Regions from separate parts of the Homo sapiens genome. Here region 2 is linked to region 1. A link means that fine-mapping ties the variant in region 1 to the plasma level of a protein whose gene starts in the linked region. Region 1 holds a variant in brackets. A gene starts in the other region. All regions are shown on their forward strands.

Region 1 (11,514 bases):
TCTTCGGCTCACCAATAGATTCAGAAAATCTGGATTCAGAAGAGGAAGAATAGGAAGAGGATGTGGATGAGACACAGGAGGAAGACTGGTACTCTCTTTTTTGACAAGGTCTCTTCTGTTTTTGATGCAGATGTTATTAAATCCTCTTCAGTGGCACCATAATTAGACTCTACTTCAGACACTTCTGATAAGTCCAAACTTTCCCTTTGTTGACTAGCTCCTCTTGAACTTAAAGAAGAAATTTATGGCTTCACAAACATTTACAAGATATGACTAGTCCACTCATTATTCTGGTTCTGCCCCTGGCCACCCCCTAAAGCTGGGGCATAAGACAATGAGGGCCAAACTACTCCCAAACTCTAAACTCAGGCACTTCCAACCTCAATCATTCATGTGTCATCCTTAACTCTTCTCTTCCCTCCCATATCCAGTCCATCAAGAAATCCTGCTGACTCTACCTTCGAAATATATCTTTTCTCAATAACTCACTGCCACCACTCTGGCCTAAGCTGTCATCATTTCTTGCCTGGGCAGCAGCATAGCCTCCCAGCTGATCTCTCTGCTCCTTCCCTTGTTCTTCTATCAACACAGCAACCAGAGTAATCCTTCTTAAACGTAAGTCACTTCATGTCACCCCTCTGTTCTGCTTGCCATTTCAAAGTCCCTACAATGGCACCCATAACCCTACAGGATCAGGTCACCATTCTCTCTCTGACTTCATTTCCCAGCACTCTTCCCCCTGCTCACTCTACTCCAGTCACAATGGCCTCTTTGCTGTTTCTCAAACACACCAAGCATGCATCCAGCTTAGGAGCTTTGCACTAGCTGTTTCATCTGCCTATTAACACTCTTCTTACAGATATCCACATGGTAATCCCTTTACCTCCTTCGAGTCTTTGCTCACATTACCTTTTCAATGAGGTCACCGTGACTACCCTGTTTAAAACTACAACCCATCTGCGGCTGGGCACGATAGCTCACGCCTGTAATCCTAACACTTTTGGAGGCTGAGGCGGGTGGAGTGCCTGAGCTCAGGAACTTGAGACCAGCCTGGGCAACATGGTGAAACCTCGTCTCTACTAAAATACAAAAAAATAAACAAATAAATTAGCCAGGCATGGTGGCAGGCACCTGTAGTCCCAGCTATTTGGGAGGCTGAGGCAGGAGAGTCGCTTGAACCCAGGAGGCGGAGGTTGCAGTGAGCCGATATATCGTGCCACTGCACTCCACAGCCTGGTGACAGAGCGAGACTCTGTCTCAAGAAAAAAAAACTACAACCCATCTGCAATCCCACCTTATACTCCCAATCTCCCTTAACCTGTTCTACTTTTAACTTTCCCATAATGCTTATCATATTTTAACAGATTACTTAATATATTCACTGCTTATTATCTCTTTACCACTACTAATATGTAAGCTCCATGAAGCAGGCATTATTGTCTATTTTGTTCACTGATAACATCCCAAGCACCTACTAAGTATTCAATAATTATTTGTTCTTTATTGTTTTTGTTTGTTTTTTTTGAGACAGGGTCTTGCTCTGTCACCCAGGCTGCAGAGCAGTGGCACAATCACGGCTCACCACAGCCTCAACCTCTCAGCTCAAGCAGTCCTCCCACCTCAGCCTCCTAAGTAGCTGGGACCACAGGAACACACCACCACATCCAGCTAATTTTTGTTCGCAGAGACAGGATTTTGCCATATTACCTAGTTTAGTCTTGAACTCCTGAGCTCAAGTCATCTGCCCACCTCAGTTTTCGAAAATGCTGGTATTATAGGCATGAGTGCCCATGCCCACCCTGCTAAATTTTTGAGATGGGATCTTGCTCTGTTGCCCAGGCTGGAGTATAGTGGTGCAATCATGTCTCAATGCAGCCTTGAACTTCTGGCTTGAACTTCAAGCAATCCTCTTGCCTTCACCTCTCAAAGTGTTGGGATTACAAGTGTAAGCCACCACATCCACCCAGTAATTATTTGTTAATGAGTGAATGAGTTTACTTCTGCTTCTGCTTTTTTTGTCCACTGCTAAACACTTGGGGTCTAGAATCATATCTGTTTCATGGAAGGTATTTGTATTAGTGTCCTGTGGCTGCCATAACAAATTACTATAAACTTGGTAGCTTAAAATGACAGAAATATATTCCGTCACAATTCTAGAGGCTAGAGTCTGAAATGAAGGTGTTGGCAGGGCCATATTCCCTCTGGAGGCTTTAGGGGAGAAGTTCCTTGCCTCTTCTACCTTCTGGCAGCTGCCTGGCATTCCTCAGCTTCCCTTGGCTTGTGGCGGCATTAACCCTAACCTCTATCTCCGTCTTCACATCGCCTTCTCCTATTCTCTGTGTCTTCTCCTCTTTCAACTCTTATAAGTACCCTTGCCATTGGATTTAGGACCTACCTGGATAATCTAGGATGATCTCATCTCAAGATCCTTAACTTAGGATCTTTTTTTTTTTCCAAATAAGGTCACATTCACAGGTTCCAGGGAGCAAAGACATGGACATATTATTTCGGGTGCCACTAGTCAACCTACTACAATATGCAGTTATTAAATGAATGAATTATCTCTCAAAGCCAATCTTCATCTTTAGTTTTCCACCCTCTCCTCCTTCATGTGTTTCTATCCCAGTTCACATACATACTCCTAACCTGGCATCTATTTTGCTGTGGCTTGACCTCAGTGCCTCACGTGACATGTTTTTTTCTCCTGCAAAGCAAAAAAAAAAAAGAAAAAAAAAAGAAAAAAGAGCAAAGACAGTTATATTCAAGCAAAAGTGTGGTAAGAAAAAAAGAGTTCATATCAGAAAGTGAAGAAAACTAATTGGGGAGAACAAATTGTAGTCACGGGGTGAAAAAAATGGAGGACTCCCCACAGTGGATGAAGAATCAGGCAATATTCTAGAGCTGGAGAATTCTTATCCTTGGGGGCAAATCTACTGTCACAAAGGGAAAAGTGGGGTCAAGGAGCAGAAACAAGAAATGAGCTCAGGAAACCCTTGAGAAGGAAAGTTGGGGTTGAAAAGGGAGAAGTAGATCTCTGGATGATCTGCCGCTTGAACATATCAGCTTTGAGCTGAACCTCCTGACATGCCATCTCCTCATGCAGCTCTTTCCTGATATTCTGCAAGTTAATGACTTCCCCAAAGGGCCATTAGGAGCTGGGAGATGGTAATGACTAGACTTGGGAAGAGGGCTTGGGTGGGGAGAATCCAAGTGAAATATCCAATCCAGAACCCAAGCCTTCCTGCTACACTAGGTTCTTTATACCCATAAGCCACCAATCCCAGCTTTCAGAATAACTTTTTCCCAACCACACTTCCCAAACAAGTTTCACCTCCTCTATGCTTACCCATCATGGCTACTATGATACTTCGAAAGATAATGGAGCCAAGCAACAACCAAAGGATGAAATAGATGCTGCTGAAGATGCGACTGACTTCAGGCACCTTCCAGACGTCCTGAAGCAGTGCATACCAATGATCCAAGGTGAAGAGAATGAACACTGTTACCAGGGAATTCGGGAGGTCCCTAAAGAAAAAAGCATGTGAATAGACGGAAGCAGAGACCTAAACCTTTCAAAAATGGTATCATTCCTACTTTCAAAGAAACATAAAGCATTTCTTTGTAGTTTGTTCTGATTTTGGCTCCTTTTCTACCATACTGTTTTTAGCTAATCATTCTTGTTTGAAGTTGTTTTATTTTAATTTAATTTAATTTAATTTAATTTTTTTTGAGACAGAGTCTCGCTCTGTTGCCCAGGCTGGAGTGTAGTGGCACGATCTCAGCTCACTGCAACCTCCACCTCATGGGTTCAAGAGATTCTCGTCTCAGCCCCGCAAGGAGCTGGGATTACAGGCACGCACCACCACGCCCAGCTAATTTGTGTATTTTTAGTAGAGCCATCTCTACTAAACTTTTGTCATGTTGGCCAGGCTGGTCTCAAACTCCTGACCTAAGGTGATCCACCAGTCTCAGCCTCCCAAAATGCTAGGATTATAGGCGTGAGCTACCACACCCAGCCTAAATTCTCCTTTATCATGAATAATCTGTGACTACCTCTCACTACTCCATTAGTCCTGGGGTATAATAAATAATAAATAGGTATTGACTGAATTTTTTAAAGATGAATGAATTTTTAAAGATCAATTTTTTAAAGATGAATGAATCACCAACTAGATAGTTTTCTAATTTTTTTTTCTTTTTTTGAGACAGAGTCTCACTCTATCATCCAAGCTGGAGTGGCGTGATCTCAGCTCACTTCAACCTCTGCCCCCCAGGCTCAAGTGATTGTCTTGACTCAGCCTCCCGAGTAGTTGAGATTACAGGTGTGCACCACCATGCCCAGCTAATTTTCATATTTCATATTTTTAGTAGAGACAGGGTTTCACCATGTTGGCCAGGCTGGTCTTGAACTCCTGACCTCAAGTGATCTATCTGCCTGCCTCCACCTCCCAAGGTGCTGGGATTACAGATGTGAGCCACCATGCCCAGCGGTTTTTTCTAATTTTATTCTCCACTGCTCTATGGACTCCACTTAATAGAAGATCACTCGTAAATTTAGCAAAATTTAGCAAAATTAGCAAATTTAGCAAAATAGAAGATCATTCAAAAAATTATTCCTATTAGTTTGCTGGTATGAAATGATATGCAAGTAAATGGGTATGTTACATAAACATATGTGATCCTAAATAATGAATATATACAAATTATAAAATTAATAATATTTAAAAATTGCTAAAAAAGTAAAAAGTTTCCGGGAAGGTATCTAAATTTTCCTACCTTTCTTTTTAGTTCCCCATACACAATTTATTGAAAACATCAGAGCTTGTATAGGATAAATTCTAGGACTTTCCTAACTCAATACTCTTACAAAACTATCTGTTAGAGTCTAACAGAGTCCTGAGAGGCGCTGACCAGATTGAATTATAATTCATAAGCAAGATTATCTACTCTAAATTCAAGCTGATTTTCTTCTAGAAAACACTGATTAGTGAGGTTTTGTTAATATTTAAAAAATATGTAACACTTCATAAATTTGTGTTTCATCCTTGCACAAGGGCCATGCTAATCTTCTCTATATCGTTCCAATTTTAGTACATGTGCTGCCGAAGTGAGCACTGATTAGTGTTTTCTAGACAGAGATCAGGAATAGGCGTGTGCATGTGTAATATGTAGAGATTGGGATAAAACCAGTGATCATATTTGAGAATCATAGTAACATTAATTGATCACTTATAACGTGTTACATACTGTGCTAAGTGCTTAAATGCATTACCACATTTAACCCCACACTCTTATGAAGTAGCACTGCTATTATTCCCCCCACCTTTCTTTTTTTTTGAGACAGAATTTCACTCTTTGTAGCCCAGGCTGGAGTGCAGTGGCTCAATCTCAGCTCACTGCAATCTCCGCCTCCCTAGTTCAAGTGATTCTCCTGTCTCAGCCTCCCGAGTAGCTGGGATTACAGGCACCCACCACCATGCCCAGCTAATTTTGTATTTTTAGTGGAGACAGGGTTTCACCATGTTGGCCAGGCTGGTCTCGAACTCCTGACCTCAGGTGATCCACCCGCCTTGGCTTCTCAAAGTGCTGGGATTACAGGCGTAAGCCACCATGCCCAGCCTATTTCCATTTTTCTTTTCTTTTTCTTTTTTTTTTTTTTTTTGAGATGGAGTCTCGCTCTGTTGCCAGGCTGGAGTACAGTGGCATGATCTCGGCTCACTGCAATCTCTGCCTCCCAGATTCAAGCAATTCTCCTGCCTCAGCCTCCCGAGTAGCTGGGACTACAGGTGCAAGCCACCACGCCTGGCTAATTTTTGTATTTTTGGTAGAGATGGGTTTTCACCATGTTGGCCATGATAGTCTCGATCCCTTGACCTCATGATCCACCCGCCTCAGCCTCCCAAAGTGCTGGGATTTCAGGGGTGAGCCACTGTGCCTGGCCCCCAGTTTTCAAAAGACGTAACTGAGTCACAGAAACCAAGCTCAACCACTGGAGTGTACCGCTATTTAAAGATGCCTGATGACAGTGTGGTTTGAATTTGCAAAACCCAGAATAAACATGGAACTAGCTGCCCTAACCTCAAGATCAGAGCTAATACCATTCACTGTTCTTTTGCTTTCTCTTTCCCTCTCCCTATTGTGTTCTATTTCAGTTTCTTGGAATAGACTGTACTTTTTATATTACTATACTTTGGACAAGCTTCCTGGTCTCTTAGCCAAATTTTCTCCCCTCACTCAGCTGTCACTCAGCTCTGCTTACGAGAATACATGATACTCCAGGTCCTGACGAGGTAAATGGGTGTACTCTGAGAAGACGTAGACACCAGTCACAACAAAAATGTAGAAGATGAGCAGCAACATCAAGAGGAAAGTCATGCTCTAGAGGCCATAAACTCAAGTCAGATGTGGGCCAGACTAGGCTGATCTCCACCAACAGCCCAGTCAAGCCCACCTGGCAATCTCCCACCAAACCCTCTCTTGCACTGCTGAACCCAGTCATCTCTGAACCATGGCACCTGTCCCCAGCCCCTTCTCATCCAATAACATTTCACAGGACGTTTCATTGCCTTCTTTGACCCATCCAGATTTGTTTCATATTCTTTTTTTTTTTTTTAAACGGAGTTTCACTCTGTCGCCTAGGCTGGAGTGCAGTGGAGCAGTCTCGGCTCACTGCAACTT[C/T]CGCCTCCTGGGTTCAAGTGATTCTTCTGCCTCAGCCTCCTGAGTAGCTGGGATTACAGGCACACACCACCAAGCCCGGCAATTTTTTTTTTTTTTTTTTTGGTATTTTTAGTAGAGACAGGGTTTCACCATGTTGGTCAGGCTGGTCTCGAACTCCTGACCTCATGACCCATCCCCCTCGGCCTCCCAAAGTGCTGGGATTACAGGCATGAGCCACCGCACCCGGCCAATTTGTTTCATATTCTATGTTAAGCCCTCACATTTATCTACCTTGCCCCCTGCTTTAGCTTGCAACAGTCAAATCACCTTGAGGGCCCTGACCAGGACCAAAATAATAACTCGAATTTGACGGAATTGTGCAAGGAGTTTGAGAGACCTCAGCACCCGGCAGATCCTCAGAAGCTGAAGCCACACCGATTGGCCTGTTACCCCTACCAATACCACAACCTCGGGAAGCAGGGACTGTGGAAAACACACAGGTTATAAGTAAAATACACCCCAAGGCACCCAGGCAGAATTGCAGCTTCTTCATCTTATCCTCTTCATTGTTCCCTGGGCGTTATCCTTTGAATAGCATTCTCTGAGAAGTGCTTACTATTCAGCCTTTCTATATTAAGTTGCTTAAACACTATACTTCAACTTGTTCAGATATAAAAAGGGGGATAAAATTCATGGTTATTTAATTAGGTTGTTGTGGAGCATAAATGAGATAATGTAAGGAAAACACTTAAAATAGTGCTTGGCACTTAGTAAGTGCTCAGTAACCGGCAGATGCTCTTGTTGGCATTGATGTTGTAGTTAGTCTACTTTGCTCCTAATACCAACAACTCCTGCAATGATTGATGTTTAGTTTTAGGAAAAAAAAATCAAAAGAAAGAAGTTAAGTAAATTTTTGTTTCTTCCTATTATCATGTTAACTTGTTCTTTCGATTCACCTAGGCACATTCTTCATCCCACTAAACGAACCCTCAGGATCTCTATCCTTACCAACATGGTAACAACAAAGTCAAAGACATTCCAGGCACTCTTCCAGAAAACAGAAAAGTTGGATAGCCACTTAAGAAGGATCTCCAGGATGAAAATAAGCAAGATAAACCAAGCTGCCCCCTCCAAGGTCAGCTTCAATGGCCATAGTTTGGTATTTGTGGATTCCAGCAATTCTGTGAGGATAGAGCAAAGGAGGAATAAAAGTTAAGGAAGCTGGAAACCGAATGATGGAGAATGAACACACTTATAAACCACAGTTTTGCCCACTACTGTTCCATTTTTCTTCACACTGTGTTAAGAGTTAAGAGTTTCTCTTCTTAACACTGTTGCTTCAACCTGTGAAATACAGGGAAGGACAGAATTGACCATAAAACACAGCCACAACCAATCTGTTCATATAGTTATGTCTGCCCAGCTACAAGTCACTTGCGATCCACTCTGGGGCTCACACAGCTACTAAGAGACTACTCTCTTTAATTACCCCTACCTCCAACCCCCCACCCCCATCTACTGTACTGTTATCTCAGTCCCAAAGTTCACAAGAAAGCAATGGGTCTTGAGAACAGAATGAAAATACAGGGCCATGATATCTGAACTACTTTATAACGAATGTAGAAACAAGCCACAATCATTAGGGTATATCGAATTATAACAATAAATCACTTGGTTCTGTTAGCTTTCTTTTAAAACTTTTCCTTTCTTCCCTGCCTAAAATTGGTTTTGTTCTGCAAAGCAAATTGAATGCATACTTCCTCTCTAGAACCTTATTATTTACCAATTGCTATTCCTTAATTCATTGCCTTTCTCTTTCAACCTTCTTCATCTCTTTTATACAATTAATGGATGTATGCCATGCTCTAGAAAAAAAAACACTGAAATTAAAATGGCTTAAGAGCTAAATAGAAATCAACATTGTGGTGCTCTGGCTTTAAATTCATCCTGATGCTGAACTGGATCCAGACAAAAAGAACAGAACCATACTTCGATCATCCCTAGAATTTTACAGAGGTTGGCCCCTTCTAAAAACCAATGGGGTTACACTATACTTATTCCTATGCTTGTTTTGAGACAGAGTCTCACTCTGTCACCCAGGCTGGAGGAGTGCAGTGGCATAATCACAGTTCGCGGAAGCCTGGATCTTCCGGGCTCAAGAGCCTCTGGGTAACTGGGACCACAGGCACATGTCACCATGCCCAGCTAATTTTTTCTTTAAATTACTTGTAGAGATGGGGTCTCCCTATGCTGCCCAGGTTGGCCTCAAACTCCTGGGCTCAAGCGATCCTCCGGCCTTGGTCTCCCAAAGTGCTGGGGTTATAGGCATGAGCCACTGCACCCAGCACTCCTATGCTTATTTAGGCTCTGTACTTCTTCCGTAAGTTTTTCTTTCATGCACATTTCTCTAAGATGGACAATATTTCACATTTTAACATCCATGAAATTAGGATGCTTTTTTTTTTTTTTTTTTTTTTTGAGATGGAATCTCGCTCTGTTTCCAGGCTGGAGTGCAGTGGTGCAATCTCAGCTTACTGCAACCTCTGCCTCTGCGCCACCATGCCCAGCTAATTTTATTATTTTTGGTAGAGACGGGGTTTCACCATGTTGGCCAGGATGGTCTCTATCTCTAGACCTCGTGATCTGCCCACCTCGGCCTCCCAAAGTGAGGATGCATTTTACAACCAGCGATGTGTCCCAGTTTAATTGAGCATGATTTTTATTTCTTATTGGTAAACAGTGAATTTCACCATTGATGACAGCTTAAATTCAATAAAATACAAAATTTTTTCACTTAACAATAAATTCTAGCTCTCAGGAGCATGGGATTATATAATTAGAAAGAGCTGAGGACCACATTTGTGGCTGGAAAATAGAATGCTATAATTTTTATTCAGTTTTTGCCCTTGCAAAACAGGAACCCAAACAGAGCAATGAAGTAAAATAAGGCTCTTGTAAAGCAGAATATAGTTTTGAGTAGTTTAAAATAGTTTAAGTAGGGAAGTCCAAATTATAGAAGCAGTAGCACTTTTACTCTCTGGAAAAATGAATAATTTTATAGAAGCTAAACAAACCCAAGGAAGTTCAGAGGAACGAATAGCAGAAATTGCCTCAGCAGCACAGAATGTGCAGAAGTGACTGCCTCCACTCTACATCAAGTAATGTGTCCTCTCTGAAGATGAAAAATAACTTTTTAAAATTCTTGGAATTTTTCAGGCTGCTATAGCAAAGCAAAGGAGTCTTAATGGAAATAGAGACCAGGAGCCCAGTGAAGTCTACCCAGGAATCTTAGCCAGTGAAGTGAAGTAGCAGTGAACATCTATGTTTCAATATTCTTCTCAGGGTGACAGACAGTAGCCATTTGATCAAGCAAGTCAGGCAAATACATAATTCTGTTTTACAAGGTAGAGTTCACCATGAACAGTCATCTATTGCTACTCCCTATTCTAGAAAAACAACAGTAGGTCACCTCACAGAATACCAGGTAAATTCACATTGGTTTCAAGGAGTCCAATACTATAGGTGAGGAGAATAGTACACTGTAACAATAAACTGTTATGTAGATTTTGACATTTACAGTTTTAATATTTTTAGTAATGTTTTGGCTAGTTATATCCATCATGAAACAAGGAACACTGATGTTGAAACATAATTTCTTTCTTTCTTTTTTTTTTGAAATGGAGTCTCACTCAATCTGTTGCCCAGCTGCCATCTCAGCTCACTACAAACTCCGCCTCCCGGGTTCAAGCGATTCTTCTGCCTCAGCCTCCTGAGTAACTGGAACCATAGGTGCACATCACCATACCCACTGATTCTTGTATTTTTAGTAGAGATGGGGTTTCACCATGTTGGCCAGGTTGGTCTTGAACTCCTGACCTCAAGTGATCCGCAGGACTAGGCCTCCCAAATTGCTGGGATTACAGGCATGAGCCACATGCCCAGCCAGAAATACAATTTCATGAAGAGCATTAAGAGTGATAATTCTGGCTGGGCGCGGTGGCTCATGCCTGTAATCCCAGCTCTTTGGGAGGCCGAGGCGGGCGGATCACGAGGTCAGAAGTTCGAGACCATCCTGGCTAACATAGTGAAACCCCGTCTCTACTAAAAATACAAAAAATTAGCTGGGCGTGGTGGCGGGCGCCTGTAATCCTAGCTACTTGGGAGGCTGAGGCAGGAGAATGGCATGAACCCAGGGGGTGGAGCTTGCAGTGAGCAGAGATGGCGTCTCTGCACTCCAGCCTGGGAGACAGAGCAAGAGTCTGTCTCAAAAAAAAAAAAAAAAAAAAAAGAATGACAATTCTGCAAGTTTAATCTCAAGATGATCTTCATCAGATTCTATAAATTCCATTCATATGACCAAAAACTTTATATAGCACATCAAACCCTCTCTAGGACTTTAAAAGTCAATGTAAAAAATTGTAATCTTCAGGAATATGCCCACCTTTGGGAAAAAATTGTAATGATATTATACTTAGGTTTTATTTTATTTTTGATACAGAATCTTGCTCTGTCACCCAGGCTGCAGTGCACTGGTGAGATCATAGCTCACTGCTGCCTCAATCCCCTGGGCTCAAGTGATCCTCCCACCTCACCCTCCTAATATACTCAGTTTTTAATTTTAAGTAGAGATTGTCTACACTTGCAATGTGTTATTTTCTGACAAAGGCTTGCAAATGAGTCAAATCATTTTTTCTTTCTCATTATTTGAAACAAAATACAAGATTTTAAAAATAAGCCAATTGATGTTTAAAGTGCAAAACAGAGGCCAGGCACAGTGGCTCATGCCTGTAATCCCAGCACTTTGGGATGCCGAGGCGGGCGGATCACCAGGTCAGGAGATCGAGACCATCCTGGCTA
Region 2 (11,514 bases), not on the chromosome of region 1:
CAGCCTAGTTCTGAACTTTGGGCTCAAGTGATCCTTCCACCTCCGCCTCCCAAAGTGATAGGCTTCCAGATGTGAGCCACCGCGCCTGGCCCCAAGCTTCTGTTCTTTTTAGGTAAAGGCCTAGGAAATAGGAAATGCACCCCAGTTGCTCCCACTTGGTCTCCCCCATTTACAGGTCACCAGGGACTTCTGTTTTATTTCCACCCATATATAGGGACCCCAAATTACCACACAGTCCAGTCATTGAGAAGTGAGACTGCCTTGGTAGGTTTGATCGCTTCCTGATCCTGTTCTGCCTAGTTCTGTGTCCCATGAGGAAAGGAGATATTTGCTTTCCCCTATGATCAGTGAAGGATGTAATCTCTGCAAATATTTGCCCATTTATACTGGCTGCTCAAACCTTGTGCCCCTTGTCACACACTCAACCTCTATGCCTACAGTCCTGTTCTTTGGCATTTCCTGTATGTCCCTGCCACATTCCCACTCTAAGCTCATGATAGGAGCCAGGGAAATTCAGAATTAGGAAAGATGAGATGTTTGTGATACTCTCATTTCTCTTCATTTTAAAAATTAAATTAGCGGCTGAGCATGGTGGCTCACGCCTGTAATCCCAGCACTTTGGGAGGCCAAGGCGGGCGGATCACAAGGTCAGGAGTTCGAGACCAGCCTGGCCAATATGGTGAAACCCTGTCTCTACTAAAAAAAAAAAAATATATATATATATATATATATATATACACCCAGGCGTGGTGGTGGGCGTCTGTAGTCCCAGCTACTCAGGAGGCTGAGGCAGGAGAATTGCTTGAACCCGGGAGGTGGAGGTTGCAGTAAGCCAAGATCGCACTACTGCACTCCAGCCTGGGTGACAGAGTGAGACTCCGTCTTAAAAAAAAAAAAGGAGGGGAGCTGACACCTACTAAGTGGAGAGGGGCAAGGCTAACACTGGTCACATATGTGTTTAAGGGAAGAGGTGAAATAAAGAGCATTCATCTGTCCTAAGTGGTCTCCAACATTTCTAACTACTTACTGTGTGCCATCCTTGAATACAGTCCTGGGAAAGGAGACTCATTACTTATGTGATATTGAATAGCTGAAATGAGCCGGGATCAATTCCTGGATCATTTTCCTCACAAAGCACTTCAGAATAGCTGTGGAACATTTGATAGATTATATTGTCACTGTCCATGGACAATTTAAATGATCTTGAGAGCTTCTTCAACTTTTTGCCTAATTCTTCAATATGCTCCCAAGACTCATACCTGCAGTTCTTGGTGATGTGGACACCCAAAACTTTGAACTGTGACACCAAGCATCATGGGAGATGGTTTCTCAGCAAACTCAATCACCATCTGAGCTACCTGGTAGGCCAGCTACCCCAGTGGGTATATTTGCCACCATCCATACATTTCCCAGGATGGGCAGCTGGGTGCTGGGTTTATTCACACTTCCCTAAGGGACTACTAGATTCGTCACAATGATGTTGGTATTGCCTTCCTCCCCATTGAACTTTTTGACTCTCACGGATGAGGGTTTCAGTGGTATCCTTTCCTCGCATCTGAAACTGCAGAACATGGGCCTCAGTTGGGCAGCCCACCTCCTCCAAGGGCACCCTCAGAGCTAAGTTGGACAGGTACTCAGGCAGAGGGGCTAGGGAGGGGGCTGTGTGTAAGAGATCTTGGCAGATCCTGGGATCTGGGAGAGGAATCTGGCTCTCCATGTTCTCCAAATAATGGAGAGCATGTTTGATGGATGCCCAGTCTCTGTTAAAGATGGCTGGAGGGTCAGAGTCTCATTCTGAGCATTTCTTGGAAAGGCAGACACCAGGGACAGCAGGACACAGCAAAGCAGCAGCACAGCTTGGACCATGGGGGGACAGCAGAGCAGCCCTGCTGGAAGGAAGCAGTGCTCAGGTTGGGAAGTGGAGAAAGGCTCAGGACAAAGAGACACCAAGACTGGCCAGAGCTAGAAAGTGTCTTAGCTCTTGGAAACTTCGGTTGCCCTGAGCACACCTCATCTTCACTCTTAAAGGATGTGGGTGATCCTCCTATTTTGAGGAGAAACAAGTCAGAGGAAAAAAACAGTCCAAACATCTCATTTGCTTTGGTATCTTCATGACCTGAATTACTATTATTGTTGTTGTTGCTGTTTTTAATCTGCCCTTTCCCAGAATCACAAGGAAACCAGAAAGTTGATGGCTTCCAAAACAGTGAAGGACAAAACATTTGCAAATATTTATGCATCTCTTCCCAGCCCAGACTTTGTCCTTCTCACCTTTGACCCATACTGACAAACTGACCTTTCCCCTTTTAGGCCCTGCAGTCCTGTCCCATATCTTTTTTTTTTTTTCTTTTTCTTTTTCTTTTCCTTTTTTTTTCTGGAGACACAGTCTCACTCTGTTGCCCAGGGTAGAGTGCAGTGGCACGATCACAGCTCACTGCAACCTCCACATCCCGGGTTCAAGCGATTCTTGTGTCTCAGTCTCCCTAGTAGTTGGGATTACAGGCACGCACCACCATGCCTGGCAAATTTTTGTTTTGTTTTGTTTTCTGGAGACAGTCTCACTCTGTTGCTCAGGCTGGAATGCAATGGCGTGATCTTGGCTCACTGCAACCTCCACTTCCCAGGTTCAAGAGATTCTCTTGCCTCAGCCTCCCGAGTAGCTGGGACTACAGGTGTGCGCCACCACGCCTAGCTAATGTTTTTGTATTTTTAGTAGAGATGGAGTTTCACCATGTCAGTCAGGCTGGTCTCAAACTCCTGACCTCGAATGATCTGCCTGCCTCGGCCTCCCAAAGTGTTGGGATTACAGGCGTGAGCCACGGCACCCAGTGACATATCTTTTCTATCCTAAGGTTTTACCCTAAACCTATATTTGAGCTGAGGAAAAGGTCCTCCGTATCTTCTTGAGGGGAGAAAGGGTAAGGCAGAATAGCTGGTGATCTCTGGGACCCCTAAACCATTTTTCTTTTCTTTTTTTTTCTGAGACGGAGTTTCGCTCTTGTTGACCAGGCTGGAGTGCAATGGCGCGATCTCAGCTCACTGCAACCTCCGCCTCCCAGGTTCAAGTGATTCTCCTGCCTCAGCCTCCCAAGTAGCTGGGATTACAGGCGTGTGCCACCATTCCCGGCTAATTTTGTATTTTTGGTAGAGACGGGGTTTCTTCATGTTGGCCAGGCTGATCTTGAACCCCTGACCTAAGGTGATCTGCCCACCTTGGCCTCCCAAAGTGCTGGGATTACAGGCTTGAGCCAGCCACAGCGCCTGGTCACCATTTTTCTTATTAAAAGAATATATTGGTTGGGAAGCCAAGGCAGGCAGATGGCTTGAGCCCAGAAGTTTGAGACCAGCCTAGGCAACATGGCGAAAGCCCCGTCTCTACAAAAATTATAAAAATTAGCCAGGAGTGGTGGCATGCACCTGTAGTCCCAGCTACTGGGGAGGCTGAGGTGGGAGGATCACCTGAACCTGGGGAGGTCAAGGCTGCAGTGAGCCATGATTACACCACTGCACCATCCAGACTGGGTGACAGAGCGAGACTTTGTCTGAAAAAGAGAATATACTGGATGGGAGTCCAGGGAAACTGGACAGATTGACAAATAAGACAAAATCAGAGCAACTTTTTTTTTCTTTTTTAGAGTCCAGTCCAGGTATTGCTCTATCTCCCTGGCTGGAGTACAGTGGCCTGATCATGGCTCACCACAGCGTTTAACTCCTGGGTTCAAAAGATCCTCCTGCCTCAGCTTCTCAAGTAGCTGTGACTACTGGTGTGCACCACCATGCCTAGCTAAAATTTTTTTTTTTTTTTTTTGTAGAGATGAGGTTTCACTATGTTTCCCAGACTGGTCTTGAACTCTTGGTCTCAAGCAGTCCTCCCACCTCAGCCTCCCAAAGTGCTGTGATTAGAGGCATGAACCACTGCACCTGGTTTATTTTTCACTTTTCTAATTCCAATGCAAAACACAAATAAAACATGTCCATCAGCTGAGCAGTAACTTTCCAAATCTAACCAAAACTCCAGGAATTAGGCTTTATCTTGGGTTTAGGGGTAACATTAGTCCAAAAATTAGGGAAATAAGACATCTGATGCCTCCTAAAAATGGTACCAGTTCCTACATATCATTATGGCCTAAAGTTTCCTCTGATGTCACTCACCTCAGGCACATGGCCAAAGGGACTAGGCCAATGGCAGGGTCCAGGGTCCCTCCCTCTATTTTTTTCGGTTCTTTCAGTTCCCAGGAGTGGCCCCTGACAACTAAGAGCAAAGACAGAAGCAGAGGAGTAAGTCTCCAGGGACACAGTGCCAACTTAGAAACAGCAAGAACTAAGTGGAAAGGAGTCCAACACTGTCTGAAATTACTAGACCCCAAACCCCTGGGGAATCCCTAAGACAATATATATACATATACCTACATGGATAAAATATACGTACACACACATACACGTATACCAGGCTGGAGTGCAGTTGGTACAATCACAGCTCACTGCAGCCTTGAACTCCCAAGCTCCAGCAATCCTCCCACCTCGGACTCCTATATATCTGGGACTTCAGGCACGTACCACCACACCTGGCTAATTTTTAAAATTTTCTTGTAGAGAAGGGAACTCACTATGTTGGCCAGGCTGGTCTCGAGCTCCTGGGCTCAAGGGATCCTCCTGTCTAGGCCTCCCAGAGTGCTGAGCCACTGCACCCAGCCTCCTAGGACTCTATAGTTTCTGTGTAGCAACACTAGAAGGAGTGAAAGATTTAATCCTTGTCTCCTAAGATCTATCACAAAGCAGAAATATCCATTCTTACCAGTTTTTCCTCATTGTACTGGAAGTTCTAACCAGTGTAATGTGGAAAGAATAAAAAATAAATGGCATAAAACTAGAAAGGAAGATGTAGAACGATATTTATTTAAATACAACATAGCTCTGGCTGGCTCAGTCGGTAGAACATGAGACTCTTAAAAACAACATGGGGGCTGGGCGCAGTGACTCACGCGTGTAATCCTAGCATTTTGGGAGGCTGAGACGGGCAGATCACGAGGTCAGGAGTTCAAGACTAGCCATGGCCAGCATGGTGAAATCCCGTCTGTACTAAAAGTACAAAAAATTAGCCAGGCATGGTGGTGCGCACCTGTAATCCCAGCTACTCGGGAGGCTGAGGCAGGAGAATCACTTGAACCCGGGAGGCAGAGATTGCAGTGAGCCGAGATCTCGCCACTGCACTCCAGCCTGGCAACAGAGTGAGAGTCTATCTAAAAAAAAAAAAAAAAAAAAAAACCAGCAACAACAAAAAAACAAAAAAAAGACATGGGGCGGGGCTTGAGACCAGGAGTTCGAGACCAGCCTGGCCAACATGGTGAAACCCCATCTTTACAAAAAATAAAAAACACAGCCAGGGGTGGTGGTGTGCATCTGTAGCCCCAGCTACTCGGGAGGCCGAGGCAGGAGAATTGCTTGAACCCAAGAGGGGGAGGTTACAGTGAGCTATGATTCTGCCACTGCACTCTAACCTTGGTGACAGAGTGAGACCATGTCTCAAAAAGTAATAATAATAAAATTTAAAAAAGTAATACAAAATAAAAACAACATGGACTAGGCATGGTGGCTCACACACTTTGGGAGGCCAAAGTCCAGGAGTTCAAGACCAGCCTGGGCAGCATAGGGGAGACCCTGTTTCTGCAAAAAAAAAAAAAAAAAAAAAAAAAATTAGCCAGCTCAGCTGTCCAGCTGTGGTGGCACACGCCTGTAGTCTCAGTTTCTCAGGAGGATCACTTGTGCCCAGGAGGTTGAGGCTTCAGTAAGCTGTGATCGTACCACTGAACTCCAGTCTGGGTGACAGAGGGAGACCCTGTCTCAAATAAATAAATAAATAAATAGATAGATAGATAGATAAATAAAATAATAATTAAAAAATAAAAAATTAAAAGAAACAATGTGATTGTTTATGCATAAATCCTAAAGAATACAATTTTAAAAGGACCAATAAGTTAATTTAGCAAGGTGACAAGATAAAATATTAATATATAAATGAATTCTATTTCTGTAGTCTAAAAACATACATTGAATGTTAACTTAGGGCCGGGTGCGGTGGCTCACACCTGTAATCCTAGCACTTTGGGAGGCCAAGGTGGGTGGATCACGAGGTCAGGAGATCAAGACCATCCTGGCTAACACAGTGAAACCCTGTCTCTACTAAAAATACAAAAAATTGGCCAGGCGCGGTGGCTCACACCTGTAATCCCAGCACTTTGAGATGCTGAGTCGGGTGGATCACAAGGTCAAGAGTTCAAGACCACCCTGGCCAACATGGTGAAACCCCATCTCTACTAAAAATACAAAAATTAGCTGGGCGTGGTGGTGTGTGCCTGTAATCCCAGCTACTCAGGAGGCTAAGGCAGGAGAATCGCTTGAACCTGGGCTGCAGAGGTTGCAATGAGCCGAGATCGCGCCACTGCACTCCAGCCTGAGTGATAGAGTGAGACTCCATCTCAAAGAAAAGAAAGAAAAAAATTTAGCTGAGTGTGGTGGTGGGCGCCTGTAATCCCAGCTACTCGGGAGGCTGAGGCAGGAGAATCGCTTGAACCCGGGAGGCGGAGGTTGCAGTAAGCCAAGATCGCGCCACTGCACTTCAGCCTAGGCAACAGAGCAAGACTCTGTCTCAAAAAAAAAAAAAAGAAAATTAACTTAGAAAATTCCAGCTGGTTACCATGGCTCAAGCTTGTAACACCTGGACTTTGGGAGGCTGAGGTGGGACGATTGCTTGAGGGTAGCAATTTGAGACCAGCTTTGGCAACATAGTGAGACCCTGTTTCTACAGAAAAATAAAATGAAAAAAAAAATTCCAATTACAATAGTGTTTAAAATAAACAAGTAAAATTCCTAAAAGAAGAAACAAGACAAGGATGCTCACTCTTGCTACTTCTATTCAACATTGTACTGGAGGTTCCAGCCAGAGTAATTAAGCAAGACAATGAAATAAAATGTACCCGATTAGAAAGGATGAAGTAAAACAACCTATATTAGTGGGTAGCATGATGTTGCATATTAAAAAAACTCAAACTTACACACACATAGACACACACACACAAAATAAGTACTAATAAATGGGTTCAGCTAAGTTGCAGGATACACTATCAATACACGAAAATCGATGATATCTCTATATATGTGCAATGAATAATTTGAAAATGAAGTTAAGAAAATTGCATTTATAATAGCAGCTATAAGTGTAAAACTTGTACATTGAAAACTACATGGGTGGGGGGAGGGGGAGGGATAGCATTAGGAGATATAGCTAATGTTAAATGATGAGTTAATGGGTGCAGCACACCAAGATGACATATGTATACATATGTAAAAAACCTGCACGTTGTGCACATGTACCCTAAAACTTAAAGTATTAAAAAAAAAAAGTCAAAGAAAAAAAAGAGCTCTCATCATTTAGAGATTCATACTGAAATACTTATGGATGAAAATATATTATTTGCTTGAAAATGGTGGAGGTGAGAAAATGTGGAGTATATGACTATGAATTGATAATTCTTGGAATTAGGTGATGAGAAATAGGTGTTTAATAGACTATTTTCTCTACTTTTTTATATATTTGAAATTTTCCATAATAAAAAGGTTTTTTTTTAAAAGAAAAGAAAACTACAAAACATTACTAAAAGAGATTAAAGGAGACTAAAGAAGATTAAAGAATGAGTTAAACCCAAAACTATTATAAGGAAGGAAATAATAGAGATTAGAGAAGAGATAAATAAAACAGAGAATACCTTTAGGCACAAATACTTGTGAAAAAATTAAAAATAGGCCCGGCAAGGTGGCTCATGCCTGTAATCCCAGCACTTTGGGAGGCTAAGGTGGGTGGATCACGAGGTCAGGAGATCGAGACCATTCTGTTAACACTGTGAAACCTCATCTCTACTAAAAATACAAAAAATTAGCTGGGCTTGGTGGCACACGCCTATAGTCCCAGCTACTCGGGAGGCTGAGGCAGGAAATTGCTTGAACCCAGGAGGTGGAGGTTGCAGTGAGCCGAGATCGTACCACTGCACTCACTCCAGCCTGGGCGACAGAGCAAGACTCCGTCTCAAAAAAAAAAAAAAAAAAAAAAAAAATTGTCTGGGCGCAGTGGCTCACACCTATAATCCCAGCACTTTGGGAGGCCAAGGCAGGTGGATCATCTGAGGTCAGGAGTTCAAGACCAACCTGGCCAACATGGTGAAATCCCGTCTCTACTAAAAATATAAAAATTAGCTGTGGTGGTGCATACCTGTAATCCCAGCTACTTGGGAGGCTAAGGCAAGAGAATTGCTTGAACCTGGGAGGTGGAGGTTGCGGTGAGCCAAGATCATGCCACTGCACTCCAGCCTGGGCAACAGAGCTAGACTCTGTCTCTAAATAAATAAATAAATAAAACAAAAAAACAAAAATTAGCCAGGCATGGTGGCAGATGCCTGTAACCCCCGTTACTTGAGAGGCTGAGGCAGGAGAATCACTGGAACAGGGGAGGCAGAGGCTTCACACCACTGCACTCCAGCCTGAGTGACAGAGGGAGACTCTGTCTCAAAATAATAATAAATAAATAAATAAATAATAATACAGATAAGAGAAAAACAATTGAGAAAATCAGTGCAACCAAAAGTTGGTTCTTCAAATAGATGAACAAAATTGACAAACCTTTAGCTACACTAACAACAAAAAAAGATAAAAAGACTCAAATTATTAAAGTTAAAATGAAAGTGGGAACATTACATTTTACAAAAATTAAAAGAATTATAAGAGTAATTAAACAATTACATGCCAACAAATTGGATAATCTAGATGAAATGAACAAATTCCTAGAAACATATATCTTACCAAGACTAAATCATGAAGTAATAGAAAATTTGAATTAAAGATATTGCATCAATAATCAAAAATCTCCCCAAAATGAAAAGCCCTGGACCAGATGGCTTCACTGGTGAATTCTGCCAAACATTTGAAGGAGAATTAATGCTAATGCTTCTCAAACTTTGCCAAAAGATCAAAGAGAAGGAACATTTCCTAACTCATTCCAGGGGTGAGCATTACCCTGATACCAAAGGCAGACATACACTAGGAAAAAAGAAAACATACACCAATATCTCCTATGAATACTGATGCAAAAATCCTCAACAAAATGCCAGCAAGCCAAATTTAGCAATGTATTAAAAGGATTATACACTGTGGGATTTATTCCTGGAATATAAAGGTGGCACAGTGTACGAAAAACAATCAATATAATTCACCACATTAACAGAATGAAGGAGAAAAATCATACAATCATCTTAATTGATGCAGAAAAAGCATTTGACAAAATTCAACACCCTTTCATGATGAAAACATTTAACAAACCAGGAATAAAAGGAAACTACCTCAATATAATAAAAGGCATGTATGAGAAAGTCATAACAAACATTATATCATACTCAATGGTGAAAGATTAAAGGCTATTCTGCTAATATCAGGAACAAGAAAAGGATGCCCACTTTTGCTAGTTCCATTCAACATAGCCCTAAAAGTTCTAGCCAGAGCAATTAGGCAAGAAAAGGAAATTAAAGGCATCCAGGTTGAAAAGGAAGAAGTGCAATTATCTCTTGTTCTTATGAATTTTTTTTTTTTTTTTTTTGGTGACGGAGTCTTGCTCTGTCGCCAGGCTGGAGTGCAGTGGCTCCTTCTGGGCTCACTGCAACCTCCGCCTCCCGGGTTCAAGCGATTCTTCTGCCTCAGCGTCCTGAGTAGCTGGGACTACAGGCACACACCACCACGCCCGGCTACTTCTTATGATTTTATATGTAGAAAACCCTAAAGATTTCACACAAAAAACTATTAGAACTGATAAATGAATTCAGCAAATTAGTGGATTACAAGTCAAGAAACAAGAACCACTTGCATCTCTACATATTAACAATGAGCCATTTGAAAATAAAATTTTGAAAACAATCCCATTTACAATAGGATAAAAATAAAATACTTAGGAATTAATTTATCCAAGGAGTTAAAAGGTTTATACAATGAAAACTATAAAACATTGCTGAAAGAAATTAAAGGAGATATAAATACATGAAAATGCATTCCATGTCCATGGATTAGAAGACTTACTATTGTTAAGAGGCCAACAGTACCCAAAGTGATCCACAGATTCAACGCAATCCCTATCAAAATCTCAATCATGTTTTTTTGCAGAAATTGAAAAGCCCATCCTAAAATTCATATAAAATCTCAAGGGACCCCAAATAGACAAAACAATATTGAAAACGAACAACTTCCTGATATCACAACTTACTGCAAAGCTACTATAAATCAAAACAGTGTGATATTGGCATAGCAGCAGACATATAGACCAATGGAATAGAATAGAGAGCCCAGAAATAAACTCTTGCATATATGGTCAAATGATTTTTGACAAGAGTGCCAAGACTATTTGATGAGGGAAAAGACAACCTTTCTAACAAATGTTGCCATAGGAAACTGGTATCTACCTGCAAAAAGATGAAGTTGAACCATGATTTAACACTATACAAATATTAACTCAAAATAGATCTAAAATCTAAATATAAGAGCTAAAACTATGAAGCTCTTAGAAGAAAACATAGAGGCCGGGCACGGTGGCTCATGCCTGTAATCCCAGCACTTTGGGAGGCCGAGGCGGGCAGATCATGAGGTCAGGAGATCGAGACCATCCTGGCTAACACAGTGAAACCCTGTATCTACTAAAAATACAAAAACAAAATTAGCCGGGTTTGGTGGTGGGTGCCTGTAATCCCAGCTACTCAGGAGGCTGAGGCAGGAGAATGGCATGAACCCGGGAGGCAGAGCTTGCAGTGAGCCAAGATTGCGCCACTGCACTCCAGCCTGGGCGACAGAGCAAGACTCCATATCAAAAAACAAACAAACAAACAAACTAAAAAACACAGGGCAAAATCTTCATGACATTGAATCTGGCAATGATTACTTGGATATAACACCAAAGACACAGGCAGCAAAAGAAAAAAATGGGCAAATTGGACCTCATGAAAATTTTAAAATTTTGTACACCAAAAGACAATATCAACAGAGTAAAAAGGCAATCCACAGAATGGGAGGAAATATTTGCAATTATATACCTAGTAAAGATTTATATCCAGAATAAATAGAGAACTCCTAAAACTCAACAAAAACAAAAATGGCCTGACTCAAAATGGGCAAAGGGCATGAACAGGCATTTCTCTAAGGAAGCTATACAGATGGCCAATAAGGACATGAAAAGATGTGCAACATCTCTAATCATTAGGGAAATGCAAATTAAAACTACAATGAGATACTATCTCACACCCACTAGGATAGCTATTATTTTTAAAAAGAGAAAACGACAAGTGTTGTCAAAGATGTGGAGAAAATGGAACCCTTGTGCTTTGTTGTTGGGAATGCAAAATGGTACAGGCCCTGTGGAAAACAGTATGGCAGGTCCTTAAATTTGTTTTGTTTTTTTTTTTGAGACAGAGTTTCACTTTTGTCACCCAG

Which allele goes with the higher level. Positions count from the first base shown, and alleles are read on the strand shown. Strength reflects both the effect of a copy and how common the allele is.
For the plasma level of the protein whose gene starts at base 356 in region 2, T is the low allele of the variant in region 1 and C is the other (weak association).

What was found. A credible set is the group of variants that fine-mapping cannot tell apart. PIP is the posterior inclusion probability: the model's chance that the variant is causal. Protein levels are from antibody-based Olink assays in UK Biobank. Linkage for the fine-mapping came from a reference panel and not from the study's own genotypes, which makes the PIPs less certain.
Region 2: it holds the start of APOF, and the variant in region 1 is the best candidate, but not a certain one, in a credible set for the plasma level of the APOF protein (UK Biobank, PIP 0.64).

Annotation. Positions count from the first base shown.
Region 1 is chr15:43,729,171-43,740,684 of GRCh38, forward strand. It overlaps the pseudogene RNU6-354P and the pseudogene CATSPER2P1. Among named protein-coding and RNA genes, the nearest start is that of PDIA3, 12 kb to the right of the region's middle. RefSeq lists enhancers at 6,324-6,403, 6,414-6,483, 6,564-6,613. The variant C/T (reference allele first, on the strand shown) is at 6,679.
Region 2 is chr12:56,362,502-56,374,015 of GRCh38, forward strand. APOF (apolipoprotein F) reads right to left here and starts at 356. Exons shown (of 2, transcript NM_001638.4): 1 at 229-356. The coding sequence starts at 244.